Linked DNA regions of Homo sapiens. The protein of the gene in region 1 interacts with the protein of each later gene in a pairwise test. Each region holds a gene or a part of one and is shown in the gene's direction. Other genes may lie near its edges. The genes, in order: TCP11, NPFFR1, GRAPL and MAP2K1.

Region 1 (7,034 bases):
GGTGATCCGCCCGCCTCGGCCCCCCAAAGTGCTGGGATTATAGGCATGAGCCACCGCGCCCGGCCTTCTTTTTGTTTTGAGATGGAGTCTCGCTCTGTTGCCCAGGCTGGAGTGTAGTGGCACAATCTTGGCTCACTGCAACCTCTGCCTCCTGGGTTCAAGCGATTCTCCTGCCTCAGCCTCCTGTGTAGCTGGGATTACAGACGTACACCACTACACCCAGCTAATTTTTGTATTTTTAGTAGAGATAGGTTTTCACCATGTTGGTCAGGCTGGTCTTGAACCCCTGACCTCAAGTAATCCACCTGCCTCAGCCTCCCAAATCATTTTTTTATCATTGAATAATATTCCATTTTATGGGCAGTTTATTTATCAGTTGAAGGACATTTTTGTTGCTTCTAAGTTTTGGCACTTATGAATAAAGCTGCTATAAACATTTGTGTGCAGGTTTTCGTGTGAACATAAGCTTTCAACTCATTTTGGTATATACCCAGGAGCGTGATAGCCAGATCATATGTAAGAGTATATTTACTTTTGTAAGAAACTGCCCAGCTGCCTTCCAAACTGGTTGTACCATTTACATCTGACCAGCAGTGAATGTGAGTTCCTATTTCTCTATATCCTGGTCAGCCATTAGTGTTGTCAGTTTTCTGATTTTGGCCATTCTAATAGGTGTCATATAGCGGTGTCTTTTTTTTTTCTTTTTGTTGTTTTAATTTGCAACTCCCAAATGACAAATGATGTTGAGCGTCTTCTCATATACTTATTTGCCATCTGAACATCCTCTTTGGTGAGATGTCTGTTAAGGTCTTTGGCCTATTTTTTAATGGTTGTTCATTTTCCTATTGTTGCGTTTTAAGAGTTCTTTGTATGTTTTGGATATATATCCTTATCAGATATATATTTTTCAAAGATTGTTTCCTAGTGTGTGTCTTGTTTTTTTGTTCTCTTAACAGTGTCTTTCACAGAGCAGAAGTTTTTAATTTTAATGAAGTCCAACTTAGCAATTTTTTCTTTTGTGGATTATGTTTTTGGCATTGTATCTAAAAGGTCATCACCAAACTCAAGGTTACCTATATTTCCTCCTATGTTATCTTCTACAAGTTTTACAGTTTTGTATTTTACAAGTAGGTCTGTGATCCATTTTGAGTTAACTTTTGTGAAGAGTTTAAGGCTTGTGTTTAGATTCTTTATTTTTTTGTATTTAGATATCTAGTTGTTCCAACATTATTTGTTGAAAGACCCTCATTTCTAAATTGAATTGCCTTGGCTGGGTGCAGTGGCTCACGTCTGTAATCTCAGCACTTTGGAAGGCAGAGGCAAGTGGATTTCTTGAGCCCTGGAGTTCAAGACCAGCCCGAGCAACATAGCGGGACCCCCATCTCTACTAAAAATAAAAAAATAAAAAAATTAGCTGGCACGGTGGCTCATGCCTGTGGTCCCAGCTACTCAGGAGGCAGGGGCAAGAGATTTGCTTGCGCGTGGGAGGTTGAGGCTTCAGTGAGCCTTGATTGTGCCATCGCATTCCAACCTGAGCAACAGAGTGAGACCCTGTCTCAAAAAATAAAATAAAACAAATTTCCTTTGCTCCTTGTATTTTTTTCAAGGTGAAAAAAAAGACTTCTTTCTGGCTTCCATTACTATATAGATGGTAGTGCCACTGAAATTGGGAATACAAGAGGAGCAGGTTTGGAGGAGGAAGATAATGAATTTAGTTTTAGATACGCTGATTTGGAAATATCTGTGGACCTTTGGTATTTTCAAAGAAGCAATATCCTTTCCTAGATTTCAGGAGTATAAGAAAATGAAAGATCATTTAGCTCAATGCTATGTGTATACACAAATGGAAATCAAGTTATCTAGGCTAGATGCACAGTCAGTGCTAAAAGTCAGCCTGACTTCTCTCCATTCAGGGTTCTTTCTACTGCAGAGAGAGGGCTGCTCTGGAACCACAAGGAGCCCTTCTGAGAGGTTTTGCCATTGCCCTTGAAATACAAATCTAACCCTAGCTTGTTCAACTCTGCTGCAGTTCCAACATAGTTCCTGGCCTTTCCCTGTTATTATAATGGCCTTTTACCATATCAAATTCAGTTTGGGGTTTAGGAGGTTATGACACTGTAACTGTTTTTGGGTTGAGAGAGTAATCTGCTCATTTAACCCTCTTATAGTCTGGAAGGCAAGGTCAAGGAGACAGTGCACAATGCCTTTTGGGACCATCTTAAAGAGCAACTATCAGCAACTCCCCCTGACTTCAGCTGTGCTCTTGAACTTCTGAAAGAAATTAAAGAGGTGAGTGACCTTCCATTTGTAAATGTAAAGTTTCTAGACATCTCCAGCTCATTGGAGTGTCAGTGGCTAGCAAATCTTAACTGAACATGGTCCATGAATCAGTCAGAGACTAAGCAATAGACAGAAATCATACAGTAATTTTAGCAGGGAGGGTTTAATATAAAAATTATTATAACAGAGAGTAGGAGAAATGAGGGCTTGGCTAGTAAGAGTAAGGAAAACTAAAGAATCCTTGAATATCAGATAAAAGGGCATCTATCATACCCTTAGGGCTGAGAGAGGCCAACCAAGGACCTCATTTGAGAGGGCATAGCTATGCCATGAGACGTTACTGGCCTGTGTATGCTGCTGACCACAGTGCACTGCAGGAACCAAGCACTGGAGAAGCTATTCATGCTGCAGGAGCCAAGTACTGCAGGAGCCTGCTGAGTGAACATACCAGAACCGGGAATAAAAGCTCTTGCCTTTGCAATGTCTTTCTAGTATGTGGCAGACATACCGTAAGGTGACCCACAATGTTCTGCACCCTTGTATAATCTTCTCCCCTTGAGTGGATGAGATTTGCAACTTCTAAGCAGTACGGCAAAAGTGATGGGATATAACTCCCATGATTACATTTCATCATGTAATACTCTGTCTTAGGAGACTGGAGGGAGAGATTCTCCTGCTGGCCCTGAAGAAGCAAACAGCTGTGTTGTGAACTGCCTATCGAGAGGGCCACATAGCAAGGAGCTGCAGGTGGCTTCTAGGACCCGGGGTTAGCATCCAGACAATAGCCAGTAAGAAGCTGGGGCCCTCAAGTATACAGTTGTGAGGAAATGAATTCTGCCAACAATCTGAATGAGCTTGGAAACGGAATCTTTCCCAGTCATGTTTCCAAATGAGAATGCAGCCCAGCTAACACTTTGCTTGCAGACTTGTGAGACCCTGAACAGAGGACCCAGCTAAACTGCGTCTGTACTTCTGACCCACAGTAACTGAGATCATAAATGTGTGTTCTTATAAGCTGCTAGGATTATGGCAGTATGTTACACAGCACAGAAAACTAAATAACACTTTCTGCCGGTGAAGCTTAAAATGTGCTATCTGGCAAAGGAAAGATATGGAAAGGACTTAGTTCCATTTTCACAGAGCAAAGAACAATGGATTTGGATCTGTGAGGCAATATATTGATAAATGGCACAGTCCACCCCTTCGGCTACTCAGTTTCCACATGCGCTCTTCTATACACATTTGAATTCCTGAAAAGAACTCTTACAAGACAGATAGCTATTTATTATTTATCCTCCCCCAAAATGAGGAGACATGGCCCAAATAGTTATTGTATCCATCACTGGCCGCTCCTCAAATTCAGCCAGTTTCACTGACTATTGTGTTACCTAAAGGCTAAATCATAAAATTTAACTTCTAACAACTTGTATATAAAATAACAATGGAAAGAAAGAGGAAGAACAAAATGTTGGCATATATAAATAAACATACATATAATAAGCAAAGATAAAATTTATAGTCCTTGTTTCCATAACTGGTCACAAGGCTATAGTTGTTATCTATGGCTTCCTTCTTCCACGATTCATTCATTCCATATTTCCCTTGTCCTTGGCCAGAACTTCAGCTAGTTGGGGTTCTTTATCTGGTGCAGTGACCCAAACCTTCATTGCCAAAGAGTCTGAGACATTTTGCTTTGTTTGTTGTGGTTTTCCATTAACCTTTAATATTGAGCTTGGAAGTACTAAGAGGCAACTCAGAGAATCTCCTGAGTTTCAGGCATGGTCTTTCTTACCCCCATTGTGTGGCCACAATCCAATTTCTCATTGGTACTCAGGAGCAAGTACGGCATCCAGTACAGTAACTCCTTTTTTTACCCTTTTGGTTCAGTGGTATAAGGAGCCCCCAATGGTCAGTTTCATCTTCTGTTTCATTGGAACCAATGCAAGTATTTCACACAAATCAGCAGACCTCAAAGTTGGCAGGATGGGAAACAAAAATCCTGCAAGTGGGTTATCAGGTGTGCTAGTAAGAGGAAGCAGTCCTACTTCTACTGCTTGATTCCTGGACCCATGTATTCTGGCATTAGGGGACAGCACCATAGAATGGTCTTTGAAGCCAGGCACAGTGGCTCACACCTGTAATCTCAACACTCTGGGAGGCTCAGGTGGGCAGAATGCTTGAGTCTAGGAATTTGAGGCCAGCTTGGGTAATGTGGTGAAACCCATCTCTACAAAAAATAGAAAAATTAACTGGGTGTGGTGGTACATGCCTCTATTCCCAGCTACTCAGGAGACTGACACGGAAGGATTGCTGGAGCCTGAGAGGCACAGGTTGCAGTGAGCCATGATTGTGTCACTGTGCCCCAACCTGGGCAACAGAGCAAAACCCTGTCTCAAAAAAAAAAAAAAAAAAAAAAAAAAGTCTTTGATTCAAAGCATATATTGCATCCTGTAAGACCAATTCCCTTCCTTTCAGGTATTGTTGCTCACCTAATGCTGTAATTGAGTCTAAAATAAGCCATTCTACTTTTTAGTTAGGGCCAGCTGATTCTCAGTGAAAGCTTTTTGGTCAGACCAGTTAATTTAGTAGGTATGAATTCACTGCATTTCCTTTGCTGTGAAATGAGTTCCTTGAGCAGATGCAATGCAATGGAGTAGGCAAAGACCCAGGACAGCTGATAAGGCATTCTGTGATTATCTGGATGCTGGTACTGACAGAAGCATGGCAAACAGGGAAGACAACTCCATATCCAGAATATGTGTCTATCCCAGTAAGGATGAATCTCGCCCTCTCTAAACTGTTAGAGGTCCAGTGAAATCATCTGCCATAAGATGGCTGACTGATCCTCCCTGGGGAATGGGCCATATTGGGGGCTTTAAAAAATTTATTTAATTTTTTTTAGGATTTGTTTTTGTTGTGGCAAAATATTCATAACAAAATTTACTATTTTTTAGTGTTACAGTTCACTGGCATTAAGTATATTTACAATATAACCATCACCACTATCCATTTCCAGAACCTTTGAATCTTCCCTAACAGAAATTTTGTACTCATTAAACAATAATTTCCCTTTCCCCTCTCCCACTAGCACCTGTACTTTCTGTCTCTATGAATTTGACTACTCTAGGTACTTATAAATGGAATACAATATTTGTCCTTTTAGTTTTGGACTTGTTTAACTTAGTGTAATGTTTTAAAGGTCCATCCATATTGTAGCATATATCAGAATGTAATTCCTTTTTATGGCTGAATAATATTCTTATTATATGGATAGAATACATTTTGTTCATACATCTGTTGATGGACGTTTAGGTTCTTTATGCCTTTTGGCTATTGTAAATAATGCTGCTGTAAACCTTGTGTACAAGTATATATTTGAGTCCCTGCTTTTAATTTTTCTGGGTATATACCTAAAGTTGGAATTGTTGGATCCTATGGTAATTCTATGTTTAACTTTTTGAGGAACTGCCAAACTGTTTTCTGTTGTAGCCACACCATTTTATATTCCTACCAGCAATGTACCAGGGTTCCAATTTCTCCACATCCTAGCCAGCATTTGCTGTTTTCCATTTTTGGTAATGGCCATTCTAATGGGTGTGAAGTGGTATCTCATTGACTTGCATTTCTCTTAATGGCTAGTGATATTGAGCATCTGTTCGTGTGTTTGTTGGCTATTTGTACATCTTCTTCAAAGAAATGTTTACTCAGGTACTTTGTCCATTTTTAAATTGGATTGTCTTTTATTGAATTTTATGCTTTTGGTGTCAAATCCTGCCAAATCCTAGATCATGAATATTTACACCTATGTTTTCTCCAAAGAGTTTTGTAGTTTTAGCTCTTATGTTTAGGTCCTTTTTTTCTTTTTTCTTTCTTTTTTTTTTTTTTTTGAGACAGAGTCTTGCTCTGTCACCCAGGCTGTAGTGCAGTGGTGCGATCTTGGCCACTGCAATCTCTGCCTCCCTGGTTCAAGCTATTCTCCCACCTCAGCCTCCCAAGTAGTAGCTGGATTACAAGTGTGCACTATCACGCCCGGCTAATTTTTTGTATTTTTAGTAGAGATGGGGTTTCACCATTTTGCTCAGGCTGGTCTCAAACTCCTGACCTCAGGTGATCCGCCTGCCTCGACCTCCCAAAGTGCTGGGATTACAGACGTGAGCCACTACCATTTTGAATTAATATATATATATATTTTTTATTATACTTTAAGTTTTAGGGTACATGTGCACAACTGAATTAATATTTTTATATGGGGGTAAGGTAAAGGTCCAACTTTGTTCTTTTGCATGTGAATATCCTGTTTTCCCAGCACCATTTGTTGAAAAGACTGTCCTTTCCCCATTGGTTCTTGGCATTGTTGTTGAAAATCATTTGACCTTATATATCCAGGTTTTATTTATCAGCTCTCTATTCTTTTGGTCTGTGTATCTGTTCTTATTACCAGTATATGCTTGGTCTCTTATAAGCCATTTTCATTTGATAATAGATTGCTGCTGTGCATGTCCAGTCTTGTAGCTACGTAAGTTAGACAATACCTAATTCCTGATGGGAAGCTTAGGCCACATGGTTACCCAGTGTTCTATAGTAAGGTGTTTACTTTCTACCAAGGCCCAAGAAGTTGTTTCTCAAAAGGTGAATAATTATCATTAAAGAAGGAATAGATTTGCTCCCAATTCCTAAAGGTCCATGTGTGGTTCCCTTATTGGTGCTTGCAAGACATTCTGTACAGCACCCTTATTTGCTATGGACACTTAAAG
Region 2 (7,034 bases), on another chromosome or scaffold:
GCCTCCATATTGCACTACATGAGTGCTCCTCCCCCACAGCATTGTTAGCAGGGGAAGGGCACCCTCTGGGTGCTTCACCCCAGGGAAAGGTGGGCAGGCAGATCAGCTGGAGATTTGCTCACTCCTGCCTTGGTGTATCATGTTGGGTGGGTCACCTAACTACTCTGAGCCCTTGTAGTCTCATCTGTAAAATGGTAGCTACCCTACAGGATGGTTGGGAGGCTTCAGTGAGCTCCTGCTTGTAAAAGCTTATGCACAGTTCTTGGCATAGAGTCCAAATATCAGTTGCTAATAGTATGTTGTTTCTTCTGCACACCCATCCCCTCCTCCTTGTTCTCTCCCCAGCACAGGCATATCTTAACCCTGCCCTTTGTGGAATCTAGTGTTCACATCCTCTCTCCACCTCAAGCCCAGTTTTTTGTAACTCAGTGAAGTAGGCAGCTGGAGTAATGAAGTGGGTTCTACTCTCCACAAGGCCACTAACTAGCTGGGTGATCAGGAGAAGTCCCTTCCCTTCATCGACCTTTGTTTTGTTATCATTGTTGAAGGAAATGAGAGTGTACAACTTCTCCCAGTGGTGTTTGCAGTATTCTTCAAGTCCCACCTCATCCAGGAAGCCTGCCCAGATTACCCCAAGATTCTCCTCCACCCATTTACTGCTATTGCATTCATAGCCAGCACTACAGGCTTTAAGAATTATTTATTCTCTGGAGATTTCTTTTTCTTTCTTTCTTTCTTTTTTTTTTTTGAGGGGGGAGACAGAGTCTTGCTCTGTCACCCAGGCTGGAGTGCCATGGCGATCTTGGCTGACTGCAACCTCTGCCTCCCGGGTTCAAGCCATTCTCGTGCCTCAGTCCCCGGAGTAGCTGGGATTGCAGGTGCGCACCACCATGCATGGCTAATTTTTGTCTTTTTAGTAGAGAAGGGTTTCACCATGTTGGCCAGGCTGGTCTCGAACTCCTGTCCTCAAGTGATCCACCCTCCTCAGCCTCCCAAAGTGCTGACATAAGCCACTATTCTCTGGAGCTTTCTTGAGTATGTGAAGTATGAAGCCAGTAGGTCAAAGTCATATAGGTTGAGATAACAAGGCCTGAGTCAGGCTGTGGGAGAGGTAAAAGGTCAGGCTATCAGGCCAAAAACTGGGTTGGCAGGAGGGCAGGACACAGTGTAGCGAAGTGGAAAGGACACTTGACTGAGAGTCAGCTCTAGACCTATGTTCCAGGGCAGGCTCTGACTCCAAACAGCCATGTGACCATAAGACCCCCACTGGGCAAGCTTTCCCCTCCATTAAACAAGTAAGATTGACTGGACATTCTTCAGGTTTCTATTTTCTGGCATCAGTAGATGACAGAAGCCATTCTGGGGAATAGGAGCCCCTCCTTTTTCCTCACTATTAAGCATTTGAAATGTCTCAAGAAGTGTGGTCAGTGTCATCTCACTTAATCTTCACAACTACCCAACAGAGTAGGTCATACTATGGGCTTCATTTTACAGATGAGGAAACTAAGGCTCAGAAAGTATTTTGAGTAACTTCCCCTCTGGTCATTCATGCATTTATCTAATCACAACCTAGGAATACTGAGATGAAAAGTCAAGGCATCTGCCCTCACAGAGCTTGCAGTTGAGCAATCGTCTTTGAACCATGCTGCAGGGGGAGGTTTTTACCTCCCCCTACAGCAGCTGTTTTCAACTCTGGTTGCACAGTAGACTTCTCCAGGAGCTTTTTTTTTTTTTGGAGACAAGGTCTTGCTCTATTGCCTTGGCTGGAGTGCAGTGGTCTGATCATGGCTCACTGCAGTCTCAGCCTCAACCTCCTGTGAAGGGGTGGCCTGCCTCTCCACACCTGTGGGTATTTCAAGTCGGGTGGGATGAGAGACTGAGAAAGAGAAATAAGACGCAGAGACAAAGTATAGAGAAACAACAGTGGGCCCAGGTGACCGGTGCTCTGCATACCAAGGACCTGCGCCGGCACCGGTCTCTGAGTTCCCTCAGTTTTTATTTATTATTATTTTCATTATTTCAGCAGAAAGGAATGTAGTAGGAGGGCAGGGTGATAATAAGGAGAAGGTCAGTAACAAACCTGTGAGCAATAGAATCTATGTCATAATTAAGTTCAAGGGAAGGTACTGTGACTGGACGTGCACGTAAGCCAGATTTATGTTTCTCTCCACCCAAACATCTCAGTGGAGTAAAGAATAACAAGGCAGCACTGCTGCAAACATGTCTCACCTCCCACCATAGGGTGGTTTTTCTCTCATCTCAGAACTGAACAAATGTACAATAGGGTTTTATACTGAGACATTCAGTTCCCAGGGGCAGGCAGGAGACAGTGGCCTTCCTCTATCTCAACTGCAAGAGGCTTTCCTCTTTTACTAATCCACCTCAGCACAGACCCTTTACAGGTGTTGGGCTGGGGGACGGTCAGGTCTTTCTCATCCCATGAGGCCATATTTCAGACTATCATATGGGGAGAAACTTTGGACAATACCCTGCTTTCAAGGGCAGAGGTCCCCGCGGCTTTCCGCAGTGCATTGTGCCCCTAGTTTATTGACACTAGAGAATGGCGATGACTTTTACCAAGTATACTGTTTGTAAACATTTTGTTAACAAGGCATGTCCTGCACAGCCCTAGATCCCTTAAACCTTGATTTCATACAACACATGTTTTTGTGAGCTCCAGGTTGGGTCAAAATGGCTGGGGCAAAGTGGCTGGGGCAAAGCTACAAATTAACAACATCTCAGCAAAGCAATTGTTTAAAGTACAAGTCTTTTTCAAAATGGAGTCTCTTATGTCTTCCCTTTCTACACAGACACAATAACAGTCTGATTTCTCTTTCTTTTCCCTACACTCCTGGACTCAAGTGATTATCCTGCCTCAGCCTCCTGTGTAGCTGGAAGAATAGGCAAGCATCCCCTCATCTGGTTAATTTTTTTGGTAGAGATGGGGTTTCACCATGTTTCCCAGGCTGGTCTCCAACTCCTGGGTTCAAGTGATCCTCCTGCCTTGGCCTCCCAAAGTGCTGGGATTATAAGCATGAACCATGGCACCTGACCCCAGGAGCTTTAAAAACAAAAACAGCACATAACAAATAATGCTAAAACCACTTTCTAGACTAATTAGGTTGGAATCCTTGGCCTGAAAAAATAGGCACGGGTTTTGTCTTTGTTGTTGAAATGCTTCAGGAGAGTCTCATGCACATGGAGGGTTTACAGCTACTGGTTTATATGGCATATGAAGCAAGACAAATCTGGGTTCAAGACTGGTCCTTGCAACTTGCTATGTGAACTTGAGCCAACTGCTTAACACTCGAGTCCCAGTTTCCTTGTCTGTAAATCAACAGTGTAGTAACTATCTTAAAGGCCTCACCTTTAAAAAATAATAAAGGGTGTAATAACAGATGCTGAGTTGTCCTCATGAGGAAATAAATGGTGCAGACTTGTCCTTGCATTGTAGAGATACTGATACTATGGCCAAGATGACATAGGGACAGCCTGACATGTAGGCTCTACATCTGACCTCCTGAGGTTTTCTGGAGAATCCATAAACAGAAACTGTGTTATTTGACGCACCTAATCGTCCTTGTCGAGGACAGACTGCGCACTCTGATCGCTCTGCTAGCTGCCAGCTAATCAGTTGACCCCCAAAAGTACACAAATGGCCCCGCAAGGAGGCTCATATCTATAATCCCAGAAATTCGGGAGGCCGAGGCCGGAGGATAGCTTGAGCCCAAGACTTTGAGACTAGCCTGGGCAACACAGTGAGACCTCATCTCTCCAAAAATTGAAAGAAATTAGCCGGCGAGGTGGCAGCGCATTCCTGTGGTTCCAGCTACTCAGGAGGCTGAGGTGGGAGGAGAGGATCACTTGAGCCCGGGAGGTGGAGACTGCAGGGAGCCGTAATCGCGCCACTGCACTCCAGACTGGGCGACAGAAGGAGGCCCTGTCTCAGGAAAAAAAAAAAAAAAAGGAGAAAAGTGCAAAAGTGCACACAGGATTCATTGTTCCCACACGATCTGCGGTTTCCTCCTCCCTTCTCATAAATCCTGTAGCTGCCTTTGTTCTTTGACTACTCAGCCAATTCAGGTCTGAGCTGTTCTTCGACGCCGCCCTAGATGCGATGATGAAGGTCAGGTGCCCGCATCCCACCCACCGTCCCCTCGCAGGGGCCCTAGGACCCACCCAGATCCCGCCTGTCTCTCTCCCCGCGGCAGGTTCCGCTGCATCGTGCACCCTTTCCGCGAGAAGCTGACCCTGCGGAAGGCGCTCGTCACCATCGCCGTCATCTGGGCCCTGGCGCTGCTCATCATGTGTCCCTCGGCCGTCACGCTGACCGTCACCCGTGAGGAGCACCACTTCATGGTGGACGCCCGCAACCGCTCCTACCCGCTCTACTCCTGCTGGGAGGCCTGGCCCGAGAAGGGCATGCGCAGGGTCTACACCACTGTGCTCTTCTCGCACATCTACCTGGCGCCGCTGGCGCTCATCGTGGTCATGTACGCCCGCATCGCGCGCAAGCTCTGCCAGGCCCCGGGCCCGGCCCCCGGGGGCGAGGAGGCTGCGGACCCGCGAGCATCGCGGCGCAGAGCGCGCGTGGTGCACATGCTGGTCATGGTGGCGCTGTTCTTCACGCTGTCCTGGCTGCCGCTCTGGGCGCTGCTGCTGCTCATCGACTACGGGCAGCTCAGCGCGCCGCAGCTGCACCTGGTCACCGTCTACGCCTTCCCCTTCGCGCACTGGCTGGCCTTCTTCAACAGCAGCGCCAACCCCATCATCTACGGCTACTTCAACGAGAACTTCCGCCGCGGCTTCCAGGCCGCCTTCCGCGCCCGCCTCTGCCCGCGCCCGTCGGGGAGCCACAAGGAGGCCTACTCCGAGCGGCCCGGCGGGCTTCTGCACAGGCGGGTCTTCGTGGTGGTGCGGCCCAGCGACTCCGGGCTGCCCTCTGAGTCGGGCCCTAGCAGTGGGGCCCCCAGGCCCGGCCGCCTCCCGCTGCGGAATGGGCGGGTGGCTCACCACGGCTTGCCCAGGGAAGGGCCTGGCTGCTCCCACCTGCCCCTCACCATTCCAGCCTGGGATATCTGAGGGGGTCCAGGGAGGGCGGGACGCTGCCTCAGGGCCCCGATTGGACACGAGATACATGCAGGCGATAGCGGCCTGGTGTGGTTAGGTGAGGATGCGTGGTCCCTCCCTCTCCAGAGCCAGGCAGTGGTGGGCAGCTGCTGGTGATGTCTTCTCTGCTGCCTTCACCCTCAGTAGAGGCAAATGCGGGGGACGGGAAGGAACCAACTTGCCCTGTGTGGTGGGCTTGACAAACATCATCTCACTGAATTGTCACAACGCTTTGGAGATAGGTTGTCTTCTCTTCCTTCTACAGATGCAAAAACTGAGGCCTGGAGAGATGTGACTCACCCAAGTTTCTCAGGTGGAAATGGCATGTGAAGCTATCTGACTCCAATACCTGTGTGGTTTTTATCATCTCCAGCTGGCTCCAAGAGGGCCCGGTAAGGTAGAACACTGTGAACTGAGTAAGTCCTAATTAGGCAGCTAGGAAGAAGCGAAAAGCAAAGCCGGCCTGTCCCTTGATGCTTTGTGTCCATGTGAGGGAGTCCCTCATGTTCCGTTACTGAAGCCACTCCCCTTGATCCTTTTCTAGAAGAACACGGTGTGCCCCCGCTGCCGGCTCTAATGTGTTGGTTTGTCTTGTTTGTTCCAAGAAGTTCCAAGAAGCCATTGTCCTCAGAGGACGGCAGCTTCAGAACGAGCCTTGGGGAGGCTGCCTCAGTTGCAGGGCACTCTAGGTCTTGCCCTCTGGGTCTGAGCTTAGAGAACAGAGGAGGGACTCCCAGACCAAGGCAAGAACTTACAATGCCACAGACATTGTAATGCTGCAGGGCCACAGGAGGTGTCCTTTTACGTACTCATAGACAACGAGGAAGGGGAAGCACGGTATGCATTTTCCACATTGGGAAACACATCTGCTCACTGGGGCTGCAGGTACAAAGCCTTGCCCAAGGTCTCTCTCCTCCCTGCTTCCTGGGAGGGAGAAGTTGGTCAACTGAAGCTGCAGCCGGAGTGCCATTTGGAGACTCCTGAAGGACACACACTAAACTCTTCCCCAGCACAAATGACTTGTGTACTCTAAGGAGGTACCAGGAGAGCCCTGTTTACTCTGGCTTTCCCCCAACACCCCTGCATCAACTTGAAGAAATGTGGCTTCTTTCCAGGAGACGGGAGCACATGGGATTGCCTTGGAGGGTCCTTTCACAGGCCCCTTCATCTTGCACTTAAATGGACATTTCCCCCCACCTCTGTAGAAAACACGGTGTTGCTAGAAATTTAGTAAACAAAAAAGAAACGTTTCCAGGGGTCGGGGCTCTGAGGCTCTGTTCCCTTAACCGACACACAGTGACTGTTTACTGTTTGCTCCACTCTAAGTTCCAGGTTTAGGGGCAGAAGAAAATTCCTAAGCAGTTGTACAATACATTCTCCAAGCATGTCCCCAGACACCGTCTCATTTAATCCATAGTAATGAGGTTGAAGGAGATTGAATGTTATTGTCATTTCACAAAGTGACTGAAGCTCAAAGGGGCCAAGTTTCCAGGGCCACAGAGGGGCAGGATTTAGATTAAAATTTGTCTTCTGATTGTTCTTCCCACCCCACATGCTGCCTTTCAAGGAAGGTGGGGATGACGGGAGAGCTGGTAATTTCCCCAAAGGCTTTTTTGCCTAACAGTGAACCAGAATGCCCACTCCTGGTGCCCAAGCTCTTGGTCTGGGAAAGAAATCTATTGTGTTTACTCTCGTAATGTCCAGCCTGAGTTGTTCTTGCCCTGGTGCTGAGCAGGCTGCCAAGAGCCATCATGACCTTGTCCTGGTTCTGGGGGTGATGGATGAGGGTCTGAGAGAGAGTATGCCCTCCTGCCCCTCAGTGGTATTAGCTGGTGCCATGCATTTCTGGTACTGTATCAGTGTCATGTGTCATATGGGCCAGAGAGTTCCCAGCTGGTTCTGGGCTATTTGTTGTGAAGAAGTCT
Region 3 (7,034 bases), on another chromosome or scaffold:
ACCCAGGAGGCGGAGGTTGCAGTGAGCTGAGATCATGCCACCGCACTCCAACCTGGACGGCAGAACAAGACTCTATTTTTTAAAAAAAGTGTTTGTTTGTTTGTTTTTGAGACGGAGTCTTGCTCTGTCACCCAGGCTGGAGGACAGTGGTGCGATCTCGGCTCACTGCAAGCACCGCCTCCTGGGTTCATGCCATTCTCCTGCCTCAGCCTCCCCAGCAGCTGGGACTACAGGTGCATGCCGCCACGCTCGGCTAATTTTTTTGTATTTTTAGTAGAGATGGGGTTTCACCGTGTTAGCCAGGATGGTCTTGATCTTCTGACCTCGTGATCCTCCCGCCTCGGCCTCCTAAAGTGCTGGGATTACAGGCGGGAGCCACCGCACCCGGCCAGAAGTATTTTTTTAAGGAATGGGGGTGGGAGGTTCTCTATTCCCCAGGCTGGTCTCAAAGTCTTGGCCTCAAGTGATCCTCCCATCTCAGCCTCCCGAGTAGCTGAACTACGGTCACGCACCACCGAGCCTGATTTATTTTTTGACTTTAAAGAATCTACCATCTCAAAGGGAAAGTTAGACTGAGGTTGGCTGGGGTGTGGCTCACTGGAGTGTGACTTTTCTGTTTCCATAAGGGTATGTGTTTGCTGGCATGGTAGGAGAGGCTGGCCTCAGGAGCTAAAATGCTGGGATTGTGTTCCAGCTCCTGCCTGCCTCTGCTGTGTGATTGTGGGTGTATTGCTTCACCTCTCTGTGCCTCAGTTTTCCCATCTGTAAAATGGGTGCAATCACATCTCCCTTGTCTCAGACCTTGAACACCTGGCACGGGGTGGGAGGCTGGCTGAGAGCCTGGTCTCACACTGCCTTCACCGGCTCCCTCTCTCCGCAGGTGGTACTCGGGCAGGATTTCCCGGCAGCTGGCCGAAGAGATTCTGATGAAGCGGAACCATCTGGGAGCCTTCCTGATCCGGGAGAGTGAGAGCTCCCCAGGGGAGTTCTCTGTGTCTGTGAAGTGAGCTCTGGCCCTTGGGGGTGTGTGCAGAGGAGGGTGGGCGGGGTTGGGCAGCATTTGAGCTGAGCCTTGGGGCCCGGGACGGGCTCACGGAGTGAGGGTGGAGGAATGGCATCCCTGCAGAGGGAGCAGTCCGGGCAGAGGCCTTCCGGACACAGGCGGTGGTCTGGGCACCCCAGGGTGCAGCCCAGAGCAGTGGGGTGTGTTGGGAAAGCAGGATCAGGCCAGCTGTGCAAGGCCTCAATGCCAGGCTGAAGGTCCAGGCTTCTACGAGTATAGGAGCCATCATAGGTTCTTCATCAGGAGAGGGCGATGTCCAGGGTGGTGATGTGGCAAGAGATTGAGGGCAGGAGAGTGCTGAAACGCCCAGGGCGGGTGTCCAGGATGTGCTCCGCACAGGGTCCCACTCTATGTGATATAGTTGGGAAGATGCACCCTGAGGCCAGGCTGCCTGGGCTCAAATGCTAGTTCTGCCACTTCCTGGCTGTGTGAGCTTGGGCAAGTCACTTACCTTCTCTGTGCCTGTTTCTTCACATGTAAAATAGGCTATTGCACGGAAGAAACAAGTTGGTATATTTAAAGCAATTAGAATAGTCCCTGGCATGGAGGCAGGGTGGCCGTGCTGGGGAACATCTGGCATTGTATTAGGGCGGCCCTCAGCTGTGGTGTGGCAGCCTCTGGGCAGCACAGAATCCAATCCTAAAGGGCCACCCTGGAGTGATTGAGGAATCCAGGCTGGAAAGTAGCAGCAGGAATGGGGGTGGGGGTAGACAGGGTCAGGCTCCTAGTTAGTCTCTGTCCTTCCTACTCTTAGGCCTTGGTAGAATCTAGATGCATTAATTCAAGGAATATTTATTGATTAGGTGCCATGTGCCAGGATGCTCTAGGGGCTGGGGAAACCAAATGGGAAAAAAAACAAAGTTGCTGCTGTCGTGGGTTTCAGTCTTTGTGAGTGAACAAGAAAACATGTTAATACAGAATGAACCAAGGTGGTCAGGAAAGGGCTCTCTGAGGAGGTGGCCTTGCAGCAAAGATCTGAACTAGGAGGTGGAGGCTTCCCAGGTGCCCAGGAATGAGGAGGACCTGGGAAGAGAGGCTTCTAGGCAGAGGGAATAGCATTTGCAAAGACCCTGAGGTGGGAATGTGATTGGGGCATGTAGGAGCCCGGAGGAGGTGACGTGGCTGGAGCAGAGTGAGCGAAGGGCAGGGGCTGGAGTTCCACCCACATCCAGTGATCACAGAGGGCCTGAAAGGAGGTCGGGTTTTCTCTCAGAGCAATAGGGAGCCATGGAGGGTCTTGAGCAGGGGAGAGATGTAATTGGACTCCATTTTTAGCAGATGACTCTGAGTGCTGTGAGGAGAAAGAACTGTTGGGGGAGAGCGTGGTGGCAGGGAGGCCCGTGGGGAGTCAGGAGGGAGATGATGGCCTCTGGGACTGTACGGGTAGGGGCTGATGAGGGGACACAGAGAAATGGTTGGGCCCAGGCATGGAGGTGTGCGGGGGGACCACCAGCAGTACCAGCTCTCAGGGCTGCTGTGGGCACAGAGCCCGGAATGGAGGAGGCGCTTACCATGCCAGCTCTTACTGCCACCAGCGGAGCTAGCACTGGGGTGGTAAAGAGTCCAGCCGGGAGGAAGGGATGAAGGAAGGGGTGGCCCCAGAGGAGGGCAGAGTGGCCTCTCATGATCTCCTAAAGGATGAAGGCCAGGTGTGGTGGCTCACGCCTGTAATCCCAGCAGTTCGGGAGGCCAAGGCGGGTGGATCACTTGAGGTCAGGAGTTTGAGACCAGCCTGGCCAACATGCTGAAACCCCGTCTCTACTAAAAATACAAAAATCAGCCAGGCATGGTGGCGCACGCCTGTAATCTCAGCTACTCGGGAGGTTGAGACATGAGAATCATTTGAACCCGGGAGGCAGAGGCTGCAGTGAGCCGAGATTGTGCCACTGCACTCCAGCCTGGGTGATGGAGTAAGACTCTGTCTCAAAAAATAAAAATAAAAATAAAAATAAAGGACAAAGAAATACAGGCCTGGGTCGATAGCTAACACTGGGGCTGGGTGTGGAGATGCAAGCTTGATGGGGCTTGGAGTCAGGGGGTCCCAAAGAAGCAGACAAAGGCAGACTCAGACAGGCTGGGCCAGGAGCCCATGAGGGCTCCTGCTGGGGGAAAAGCATTCCCACCCACCTGATGCCTTCCAGGCTCTGCCGGGTCCCTGTGACTCCCATGTGTTCAGCCGGCCTGTTTTGAAACAAGCTCAAGCTGTTCACTGTGTGGGATCAGCACGTCTGCTGCTAGCCCTGCAGGGTGGCGAGCTCCCCTGAGCCTGGAGGCACCCGCAAGGAATAGGAGCCTATGGTCAGGAAGGCGGCTCTAGGGGTGTGTTCGTCCATTTAGTGTTGTGATAAAGGAACACGTGAGGCTGGGTAATTTATAAAGAAAAGGCGTTTATTTGACTTGGTGTTCTACAGGCTGTGTAGGAAGCATGGCACCGGCATGTGCCTCTGGTGAGGCCTCAGGAAGCTTTTACGCATGGTAAACGGGGAAGGGGATCCGGCGCATCACATGGCGAGACGGGGGCAAGTCGGGGAGGGAGGTGCCAGGCTCTTTTCAACAACCAGACCTCAGTCATTACTGCAAAGAGCCACTGATGAGGGTCTGTCCCATGACCCAAACACCCCCCACCAGGCCCCACTTCTAACACTGGGAGTCACGTTTCAGTGAGAGATTCGGAGAGGACAAACATCCAAACCATACCAGGGAGGCAGATCCAACGTCTCAGGGGTCACAGCCCCCCACATTCACCCTGAGCCCGGGCGCCCAGTTGGTGGAACCAGCCATCAGCCTTGTTCCCTTCCCTTTTCTCCTGGGGGCAGGCTGGTGATCCTGAGGGGCAGGAACGCGCATGCCCCCTCTGAGCCTCTATTTCCCCATCTTAAAAATGCGAGTGCTGTCAGCATGTGCGTGTGTGCGCTTGTGTGTGCTGGGGGTTTACTGTGCGTTCTTGGCCCTGACTGCCCACCCCCGGGATGGTGTGGGCACCTGGAGCCTGGAGTCCCCGCGGGCTCACCCCCCACCCCCCCAGCCCAGCCACCACTTCCCTGCAGCCCCGGGGAGCTGCGGCTCCTGCGGAGGCAGGACGTGGCAGTCTTCCAAGTGTCGGCTGTCCAGGGCCTGGTCATCTCCTGGGAATGGCGTCCGCCAGGCGGGCTGGCCTGGCTGAGTGGCTCCTGGAACCAACCCCAAAGCCCAAGGTCACCCAGCAAAGTGGGGGCACAGGGGACTCAAACTACGTCTGGAGCCCGAGTTGAGGGGGAGGGGCTGGCCCTCCCTCCGCCCTCCGGCTTCCTCCTCTAACAAATCACGCGGCCTCACTCTCCAAGTTAGCGCCCCAGTGTGCTGCCCTCTTCAGGCGTCTCTCTGTAAGTGCAGCCACCTGCGCACACGCACATGATCAGACCTGAACACCCCAGCCTTGTGAGTTTGCTCAGCACGCATTTATTGAGCATCAGCTGTGTGAAAACCACAAGGCAGGACTGAAACAGGAGACAAACCAGAGGCATGTGAAGGGGAAATGGTCACAGCCTGGCCCAGGGGTCTCTATGATGAGCAAATGAATAAATGAAATTCAATGACAGTGGATACATTCCACATAGTGAAGGCACCAGGGAGGAAGTGACATCTGAGTTGGGCTCTAAAGCATGAGTAGGATTTTGGCGCACAAGGAGAGTAGATGATATGCCAGGCACAGGGAACAGCATGAGTAGAGATCTAGAGGTGGGGAAGCGAGGGGTGTGTTTGGATAACAACGTGTTTTCTGACCAGGAGGGAAGATGGACAGTCTTAGGGAGCAGTTCTTGAGCAGGCGAGCCAGCACCGGTGTTTCCTGGGAAGGGATCTGGAAGCGACCCTCAGAGAAATCCTGGCCTGTGCCCCCGAACCTTTTGTCCAAGGCATACTGGCCAAGTGTGCCCAGGTCAAAACTGTCAGGAGCTTCCTGGGCTTGGCTGGCTGTGGGTTGTACACAGCACCAGCAGGTGGAGCCATTGACCCTTGGCTTCTTCCTGCCTGGGCCCAGGCTCCTGGGTCCTGCTCCCATTCTGTCCATCATCTGTCATGGGGCCTCTCAGTGGTCCTTGGACAACCACCAAGCAGGGGTCAGAGTTGGAAGCTGAGACTCAAATGGGGCATGTGGCTAAGAGCATGGTATTTTGAGCAACAGTCAGCTCTGACACCTGCTAGCTGCTCGCTGTATAATCCTGGGCAAGTTACCCCTCTGAGCCTCAGTTTCCTCATTTATAAAATGGACAGCTATGTAACGTGTTTTTTATGATGACTGGCACATGATAAGTGCCAGTTATCATAATTATATTAAGGCTCCAAGGACTGCACACCAAGCTGGGGAGGAATTAGGGAGCCCCTCCTGGCCTGGAAGGCTGCCCCCCACCCCCTGCCCATGAATCCAGCACTCTTAGAGAAGAGGCAGCAGCACAGGGAGTCAGGGAACCCAGATGCTGGGAAGCCGGGTGACCTGATGGCCACCTCGGAAAATGACAGCCTGGCAGATTTGTGTGTAAGAGCTCTTCCACCCTTGCTGGTTGGTACTTGGGAACTCTGATGGCACTATGCATGGCATCTCTGGCATACTCACACCAAGCCCTGTAAAGCTGTCAGAGGTGGGGTTTATGGGCCTCATGCTGCCTCCTAGAGCAACTGTGGCCATAGCTAGCTGCCCTTTATGAGTTTACAAAGGGCTGTCCCCCTCCTCCTCCAGGGAGCATGTCTGAGCTGGCGGGCAGCGGGCCAGGGGCCAAGGCTGGCGTGCAATGTCTGGGCTGCCTAACTTTTGCCCCACACTCCTATCCAAGCTACTGTGGACTCTTCTGCCATAAATGACAGTTTGTCTCCAAGTGACATATTTGCCTCCTTTCTAGCCAGAGGTACCCTGGAGTCAATGCACATGTGTTTGCCCTGCCCATCTGGTCACTGAACCCCTGCTGTGTGCCAGCCCTGTCCCAGGGCCTGGGGATTCAGCCAGCAACAAAATAGGGCAAAGCTCTCTGTCCCTCAAGTGCCCATGTGCTACTGGGTGACAGACAATAAGTGATTAGGAAATTGTATAAAATCTTACACAATGACCAAGGCTTTGGAGAAAATGAAGCAGGGAAGTGGTGGAGGGGGGGTGCAATTTTAGGAGGAAGGGACTGGCTGCAGGCAAGGACAGGGAGGAAGTGAGGAGACCTGCCTGATCCCCAGAAGCCCAGCTTGCAGGTAAGGAAACTGAAGCCTGGAGAGGTGCAGCAACTTCCCCAAGGTCACACAGCGAGGAACTTAGAGCTGGTGCCCACCGACCTCTGTGCCCTGACAGACCTGGTCTGTCCTCCACCCACCCTCCCTGAGCTCCAAAGACCCAGCAGGAGTCTGTCTGCACCAGTGTCCTGCCCCTCCCAAGCTCAGCTTGACTCTGGTTCCTGTCTGCTGCCGAACAGGTTGTTCCACCCCTCCTTTTCACAGATGGGCAAACTGAGGCCAGAGAGGGGCCATGCCTGATGGAGATCGCCCAGCGGGCAGTTAGCACCCAGGTGGGTCCACACGTCCACAAGCCCTGGTTGGGGTGGTGGAGGGGGTGTCCTAGGGCTCCTGCCCCCACCCCAGCCTTGTTTTTCCTCTCTGGGCTGACACTGTTACCTTTGCTGCTGCTGCTGCTGCTGCTGCTGCTGCCGCCACCAGGCCAGAAAAACTCGCTGGGCAGGACTGGCTGCTGCCAGCATTAGGCCTGACTTGGTCCTTGGGGCTTTTCTGACAGCCCAGGGGTCAGCCTAGCCCCTTGTTCCCCTGGGTAGGTGGATGTAGGGGTCACACAGAGAGACAAAGATACTCATGATTGCTCAGTGAGAGACTCACACATAACAGTCACTCCACACAGTGGGAGACACACACAGACACACACACACACAAGCATCCCAGGAATGCACACTCAGACACAATGGAGACGCTCTCACACCCCCGGCACTGCCCACTGAAGTGAATG
Region 4 (7,000 bases), on another chromosome or scaffold:
TTACAGGACAGTTGTATGAATCAGAGGATACAGCGGAAGAAAAAATGTTTGGAAATTTAGGTCTCTGCAAACTAAGGGCCAATGTACTGGTATTTGTGACAGTGACCGGATGGGTGGGATGGGGTGATAATAAGAGTGCAAGGAAGGGGGATGGGGGCATCGTTTTGACTCTGAGGAGCAGCTTTAAGGCCTCTCACATTCCAGCTCCAGGTAGCAAGGGGTTCCCCTTGACTGGCAGGGTAGATGTACCTGTGTAGGCTGTTAGGTGAGTGACTCCAGTGGAATGGAATGGAATCATGACTCAGCTCCCACCCTGCCACACATATTTGTAAGAAAAAGACCCACATGCTCCATGCCTGGTGCAGAAGTCTAGAATGGGAATTCCCGCCAAACCCTGTCCCCTTCTAGCCTGTGTAGCCTCAGCAAGCAGATAGGTCTTATTACTTGTTTTTTTCTGCCTCCTTCATGATCCAGCCATAGATACTATATCTTACCAGTAGGGGTGGTTGAAGCAACAGACTTTGAAATCCTGACTGTTCATGATAACGGACTCCTTCCTGTGGATCATCTGGCCAAGTCTGCATTCTTAGAGAGTGGAAATCGACTGTCTTTCTGTTCTACTTCTACAGCAGCTGCTCATTTCATCTCCTGACAGTTGCTTCTTGAACTCAGAACAAAGGGCCTTGGTGTACAGTGTTTGCAAGCCAAGGGCTGCCTCTGATGGCGGACGGGGGTGTGGTCCTGGGACTCGTGGTCAGGGCTGGTCTGTGTGGAATGCTGATCCTTCTCTTCCCCAATCTACCTGTGTCAGTTCCCTCCTTTTCTATTTTCTCTTCCCTGCAGATGTCAAGCCCTCCAACATCCTAGTCAACTCCCGTGGGGAGATCAAGCTCTGTGACTTTGGGGTCAGCGGGCAGCTCATCGACTCCATGGCCAACTCCTTCGTGGGCACAAGGTCCTACATGTCGGTATGAACAGAAGTTTCCATTGCTTGAGCTTCTTGTACGGTCAGGGAGAGGAGCCCAGTGGGTGCCTTTCCTGTGGAGCCAGAGTCTTGTGCTGGGTAGGGGACAAGAAGTGAGGGAGGAGGCACAGTGCTCTGCCCTGAGGAGATGAAGTTGAATGGGAAGATGGTCTTGGTCTTTCTTAGGCCTTGGAGCATAACTGGGATATTGGGGCCTTGACTCACTGAAAGGACTGTCCAGCTCCAGAGTGTGGCTTTCTTTCTGAAGGATTGTGAGCTCCAGCTCCCCTCTGGGCATCTCTACATGATAGTCTTCAGATCCACAAACCCAGGATGCTCAGATATAATCCACCCCAAACTACCTCACCTTCTCCTTTTCTCTTAGCAGTAAATAGACAGCATCATCTCCCTGGTTTCCCAAGGTAGAAACCTGAGCATTGGCTCTTAACCTGCCTTCTCAGCAGCCCGTCCTTTCAGTATCTTGTAGCTCCCAACTCCTGAGAGTCTGTTCAGAATTGTCCAGCCTCTTTTCTCCCTCCTCACTATGTCTGTCAGACATGTACCCCTCCTTCTAACTGCAGCATACCTGGACCCCTCGCCAGAGTCTCTGCTCCACTTCAGCCAACACCCTGTGTTGAGGGTATTTCCTCCTGCTCCTGGCTCTGCTGGCTCACACTGTCACCAGAGCATTGTGTGGGGCCATCCTCACACTATGGCAGCACCAGCGTGTTTTCTTCCCTCCTCCATACCACCGGTTCCTTGGGGACAGGGACAAGGTGTCTCTCTTGTCCCTAGTGCCTGGCATGGGGCCTGGCATGTGGTAGGTGTTCAGGGAATGCTTGGCAAGTGGGTAGATGTTTAGTTGGCTGAGTGGGAGGGTACATGGATAAAACATTTCTGAGAATGATTTGGAAAGGTGGAAACGTGAGTCTGGGCCAGTGCTGAAGTGCGGCAAAGTGGAGGAGCGTTGGAGTGAGTAGGCAGTCTTTACAGAAGTGGCGGGGAGTGCAGGCCCGCGTGGAGAGGGGGACAGGCGCAGAGGCTCAGATCTTAACTTGTACAAAGCATTTTATGTGTTCTCTGTCAAAGCACATGTCATGTCCCTGGAAGGTCTCATTTGATCCATGTGGTTGTCCCAGGAAATAAAGATTATTGTTCCCATTTTAGAGGTGAGGAAGTCTAGATTCAGGGAGGTTAAGCAACCTGCCTACTTAACCTTGCTGAGCCAGGATTGAAAGCTAGCTGCCCCCTTGCCAGGCAGACGCCCTTTGCACAGCACACCCTCATTTGCCTCTTGGGGAGGATTTGGCACCTGTGCCCAGATCCCAGTGTGAACACATCCTCATTCCTTCTTGCTGGCACCTACCCCCCACTGTGACTCCAGCCACTGTCAACATCACTCACCTGGCACTGACCCACATCCCCACCCCTCCCCTCCAGTGACCCACAGTGGAACTCTCTTTCTCTGTCATCTCCTCATTGCTTCTTCCCTAAATGTCTAATAACTGAGCAGCTGGCATCCTGGGCCATTTGACTGCCAACTCTCAAGTTCAAAATCCATTAACAGGCCCTGGGAGTTACTAATCAAGGGTTTAATGGTTGGGGTTTTTGTGGTTATATGGTCAGTTACGAAATAGTCCAGTGTTGGAGTTAGTGAAAAATGCTACTGGAGAAGTTAATGTCTACGTGAATATACTATGGGCAGAATAAAGATTTTTTCGGTAGGGTTCTTGAAATACATGTGCTATTTCAAATAATGCTCATTAAAAATAATGCTTTTGTATAGCACTGTATACTTTTTTTCTCTTTGGCTTTTCCCACCAATATCAACCAATATTTGTATTGCATTTTACAACATTTGACATACATTTTCTTTTTTTTTTTTTTTTTGAGACGGAGTCTCACTGTGTCACCCAGGCTGGAGTGCAGTGGTGCAATCTCGGCTTACTGCAAGCCCTGCCTCCCAGGTTCACTCCATTCTCCTGCCTCATCCTCCCGAGTAGCTGGAACTACAGGCGTGTGCCACCACGCCCGGCTAATTTTTTTGTATTTTTAGTAGAGACGGGGTTTCACCGTGTTAGCCAGGATGGTCTCGATCTCCTGACCTTGTGATCCACCCACCTCGGCCTCCCAAAGTGCTGGGGTTACAGGCATGAGCCACCGCGCCTGGCTGTACATTTTCATTTGATTTGATCTTCTTAGTAATCCTAAGTAGAGTTTTCTTATATCATTGTTACTGTCATTTTCATCATCATCAGCCACCACCCCCCCCCACCTTTTTTTCTTCCGACATGGAGTTTTCGCTCTTCTTGCCCAGGCTGGAGTGCAGTGGTGCGATCTTGGCTCACTGCAACCTCTGCCTCCCGGGTTCAAGTGATTCTCCTGCCTCAGCCTCCCAAGTAGCTGGGATTACAGGCATGCACCACCATGTCCAGCTAATTTTTGTATTTTTAGTAGAGATGGGGTTTCACTATGTTGGCCAGGCTGGTCTCGAACTCCTGATCTCATGTGATCCGCCTGCCTCAGCCTCCCAAAGTGCTGGGATTACAGGTGTGAGCCACTGCGTCCCGGCCCAGCAGCAGCCCCATTTTATAGATGAGGCTGATATTCAGGATCTTTTAGCTTGTAAGTCCCGGAATTGGGATTTAAGTCTCAGGCCCACTGACCCCAGATCTTTTGTTCTATGTATCCACGGCACCACCTCACTCCCAACCCGCATTCCACAAGCTTCATGTTTCAGATTCAGTGACAAGATGAGCCTCTCATGCTGGGCTTCGGACAGGCTGCCCTGCGTGTGCAAGACTGTGGCCAAGCTGGGTAAAGCTGGAACCACAGGCTGTAGTGGCAGCCAGGGCACAGCTGATTACATGTGGTCTGTCAATTTAGGCCAGATTATAGGAGAAATAGAGCAGGGATGAGGGGTTAAAGCCACAGAAGCCAGCTAGGATTTGGTAAACACAGTGTTGGGGGTAGGCAGGAGGCCAAATTCAAGAGGTTAGTGGAGCTCTTGAAACAGGATATGAACTATTGAGAAGGGACAGAAGAGAAAATGCATTAGCAGACCCAGGGGTCCAAGTTAGGTTAGGTGATTATCACTGTCTGTCTCTCCTGCAGCCAGAAAGACTCCAGGGGACTCATTACTCTGTGCAGTCAGACATCTGGAGCATGGGACTGTCTCTGGTAGAGATGGCGGTTGGGAGGTATCCCATCCCTCCTCCAGATGCCAAGGAGCTGGAGCTGATGTTTGGGTGCCAGGTGGAAGGAGATGCGGCTGAGACCCCACCCAGGCCAAGGACCCCCGGGAGGCCCCTTAGCTGTGAGTAGCCTGGTGTGTCCCCATCTTGGACTGTTGGAGGGGAGGGTCCCTTACTTTCAGGGGTTTCTGGAGGGCTGATTCTCTGTACATTCTGCCAAGACTGATTCTCTGTCCCTGGATGCCAGGCTAGGGCCAGGGGAAGCAGCAAGGGTCTCCAGGTGGGTGTTGTTACTACCAACAACTTCCTACCATTTGTTGAGTACGTACTATGTTCTAGGTACTGCACTTAGGACTTTATACATTATCTAACCTTTTGTATTTATTATTTTTATTATTAAGGGTCTTGCTATGTCGCCCAGTGCAGTGGCTAGTCACAGTCTTCAACTCCTGGGCTCAAGCAGTCTTCCTCCCTCAGCCTCCAGAGTAGCTGGGACTACAGGTTATAATTTATTTGCGGGGGTTGGGAGGGAAGGGGCTCACTCTGTCACCCAGGCTGGAGTGCAATGGCATGATCACAGCTCACTGCAGCCTCAACCTCCCAGGCCCAAGTGATCTTCCTACCTCAGCGTCCTGAGTAGCTGGGACCACAGTCACATGCCACCATGCTCAGCTAGGTTGTTGTTTATTTTGTAGAGATATAGTCTCCTTATGTTGCTCAGGTTAGTCTTGAACTTTTGGGCTCAAGCAATCCTCCCGCCTCAGCCTCCCAAAATGCTGAGATTACAGGCATGATCCACCATGACTGGCTTCTAATTTGTGGGTTTTTTTTGTTTTGTTTTGTTTTTGATACTGGGTCTTGCTCTGTCACCCAGGGTGGAGTACAGTGGCGCCATCATGGCTTACTGCAGCCTTGACCTCTTGGGCTCAAGTGATCCTCCTGCCTCAGCCTCCTGAGTAGCTGAGACCACAGGCATGCGCCACCATGCCTGACTAATTTTTTTAATTTTTTTGTATAGATGAGGTCTCACTATGTTGACTAGGCTGGTCTGGAACTCCTGGGCTCAAGTGATCCTCCTGCCTTGGCCTCCCAAAGTGGTGGGATTATAGGCATGAGCCACTGCATTCTAATTTTTTAATCATGACTTTTGGTAGATTTATTTTTTATTGAGATATAGAATTCACATAAGACAAAATTCACATTTTAAAGCATGTAGTTCAGTGGTTTTTAGTGTATTGTTCCATGTTGTGCAGCCATCACCACTGTCTTATTCTGGAACATTTTCATTACCCCAGCAAGAAACCCCATCCCCCACTCCCCCCTGCCTGATCCACTGACAACCACTAATCTACTTTCTGTGTCCACGGATTTGCCTAGCATTATATAATTTTAATAGCATTTCATTTGTGATCACGACTATAATCTGAATTTTAAAGATGAGGAAACTGAGGCACAGTGCACTTGTCAAGGCCACATAGGCTTGCAAGTAGCCAAGTCTGACTCCCAAGATGATAAACACTGTGCAGTACCACCTGCCTCTCTGAATGTGAATACTGGGAAGTAAACCTGGTACTCAGGGAATAGCCTGACCTAGCCAACTGTTTTTTATGTAGCTCCTGTCTGGCCAGGGATACCTGCCCTGTACCTCCATGAGGTCCACATGAGAGAGAGCTTGTATAAAGGGGAAAGCAGAGGGGGCTAGAGGTAGCTGATGGCAGGTCATTGGAGGGGCTGGTGGCTGTGGCCTCTGAGGCTCGCCAGTGACTCTAGGAGACAAAAGGAAGAAACGCAACTTCATGGAGAATTAAAACTAAGTCCTTTAGTTATTTAGTTGCTATCTCATTTGTGCCTCTCTCAATAGAAGGAAGGGGGAAAGGACAGACATAATTATTATGTCTCTGCTTTACAAAACTCAGAACTTTGTTTGGCTCAGCAGTGAACTGATTTGCCAAAGGTTACGAACTTAAGATGTGGCAGAGCCCAGACTTGTACCCTGGCCTTTGCTGGTCCCCTCTGTGTTCAAGCCTTATCTGTGGCTGTTTAATGTTTATTGTCCATGACCCTGTTCTGGTCCCAGGGATCCATGCCCAACCCCTTGCCTCATATTAACAAGTAATCTGTTTCTGAGAAGTATTTTTTCTTTTTATAAAATTTGTAGCATACGGAATGGACAGCCGACCTCCCATGGCAATTTTTGAGTTGTTGGATTACATAGTCAACGAGGTAAGTACTGCCTGGTTTCCTTCACCTTGGAATTTACTTGCTCATCTTAAGAAAACACCCAGGTGGCCGGGTGCAGTGGTTCACGCCTGTAATCCCAGCAGTTTGGGAGGCTGAGGCGGGTGGATCACACGAGGTGAGGAGTTCGAGACCAGCCTGGCCAACAAGGCAAAACCCCATCTCTACTAAAAATACAAAAATTAGCTGGGCATGGTGGTGCACGTCTGTAGTCCCAGCTACTCGGGAGGCTGAGGCATGAGAATTGCTTGAACCTGGGAGGCGGAGGTTGACTCTGGGAAAAACAAAACAAAACAAAAAAACAAAAAAACACATCGCTGTCACAGGTTCAGTCTACTAGGGAGTTTAATTTAACCTCTCTTTACTGTATGCACAGCTTTATACTAAGCACCATGGGCTGTAGAAAAGCAGTTTCAGGATTAGTTCGTCGCTGCTTAAGGATTTGAGGGAGGCAGAGCATGTTGCATTTGTAGGAGTCAGAAAAAAAGCCATCCATCCTCTACTGCTGGGGACCTAGGCTAGGTGGTTCTGGGTGGTAGTCATATTAAGGGAAGGGATATCTGAGGTTAGATACGCCATTGCGTCTCCTAGTGTGCACTGCTTT

What was found.
Region 2: the proteins of TCP11 (region 1) and NPFFR1 interact in binary tests that used the Homo sapiens proteins (3 or more experiments, as listed by UniProt).
Region 3: the proteins of TCP11 (region 1) and GRAPL interact in binary tests that used the Homo sapiens proteins (3 or more experiments, as listed by UniProt).
Region 4: the proteins of TCP11 (region 1) and MAP2K1 interact in binary tests that used the Homo sapiens proteins (3 or more experiments, as listed by UniProt).

The regions. Positions count from the first base shown.
Region 1 is NC_000006.12:35,124,317-35,131,350, reverse strand, and holds part of TCP11 (T-complex protein 11 homolog), read left to right. Parts: intron 1-2,168; coding exon 2,169-2,289; intron 2,290-2,559; exon of another isoform or gene 2,560-2,773; coding exon of another isoform or gene 2,774-2,794; intron 2,795-2,931; exon of another isoform or gene 2,932-3,068; intron 3,069-7,034. UniProt on the Homo sapiens protein: Plays a role in the process of sperm capacitation and acrosome reactions. Probable receptor for the putative fertilization-promoting peptide (FPP) at the sperm membrane that may modulate the activity of the adenylyl cyclase cAMP pathway.
Region 2 is NC_000010.11:70,253,005-70,260,038, reverse strand, and holds part of NPFFR1 (neuropeptide FF receptor 1), read left to right. Parts: intron 1-4,211; coding exon 4,212-5,082; 3' UTR 5,083-7,034. UniProt on the Homo sapiens protein: Receptor for NPAF (A-18-F-amide) and NPFF (F-8-F-amide) neuropeptides, also known as morphine-modulating peptides. Can also be activated by a variety of naturally occurring or synthetic FMRF-amide like ligands.
Region 3 is NC_000017.11:19,137,586-19,144,619, forward strand, and holds part of GRAPL (GRB2-related adapter protein-like), read left to right. Parts: intron 1-880; coding exon 881-1,003; intron 1,004-6,517; coding exon of another isoform or gene 6,518-6,530; exon of another isoform or gene 6,531-7,034.
Region 4 is NC_000015.10:66,480,912-66,487,911, forward strand, and holds part of MAP2K1 (dual specificity mitogen-activated protein kinase kinase 1), read left to right. Parts: intron 1-843; coding exon 844-968; intron 969-4,078; coding exon 4,079-4,280; intron 4,281-6,316; coding exon 6,317-6,381; intron 6,382-7,000. UniProt on the Homo sapiens protein: Dual specificity protein kinase which acts as an essential component of the MAP kinase signal transduction pathway.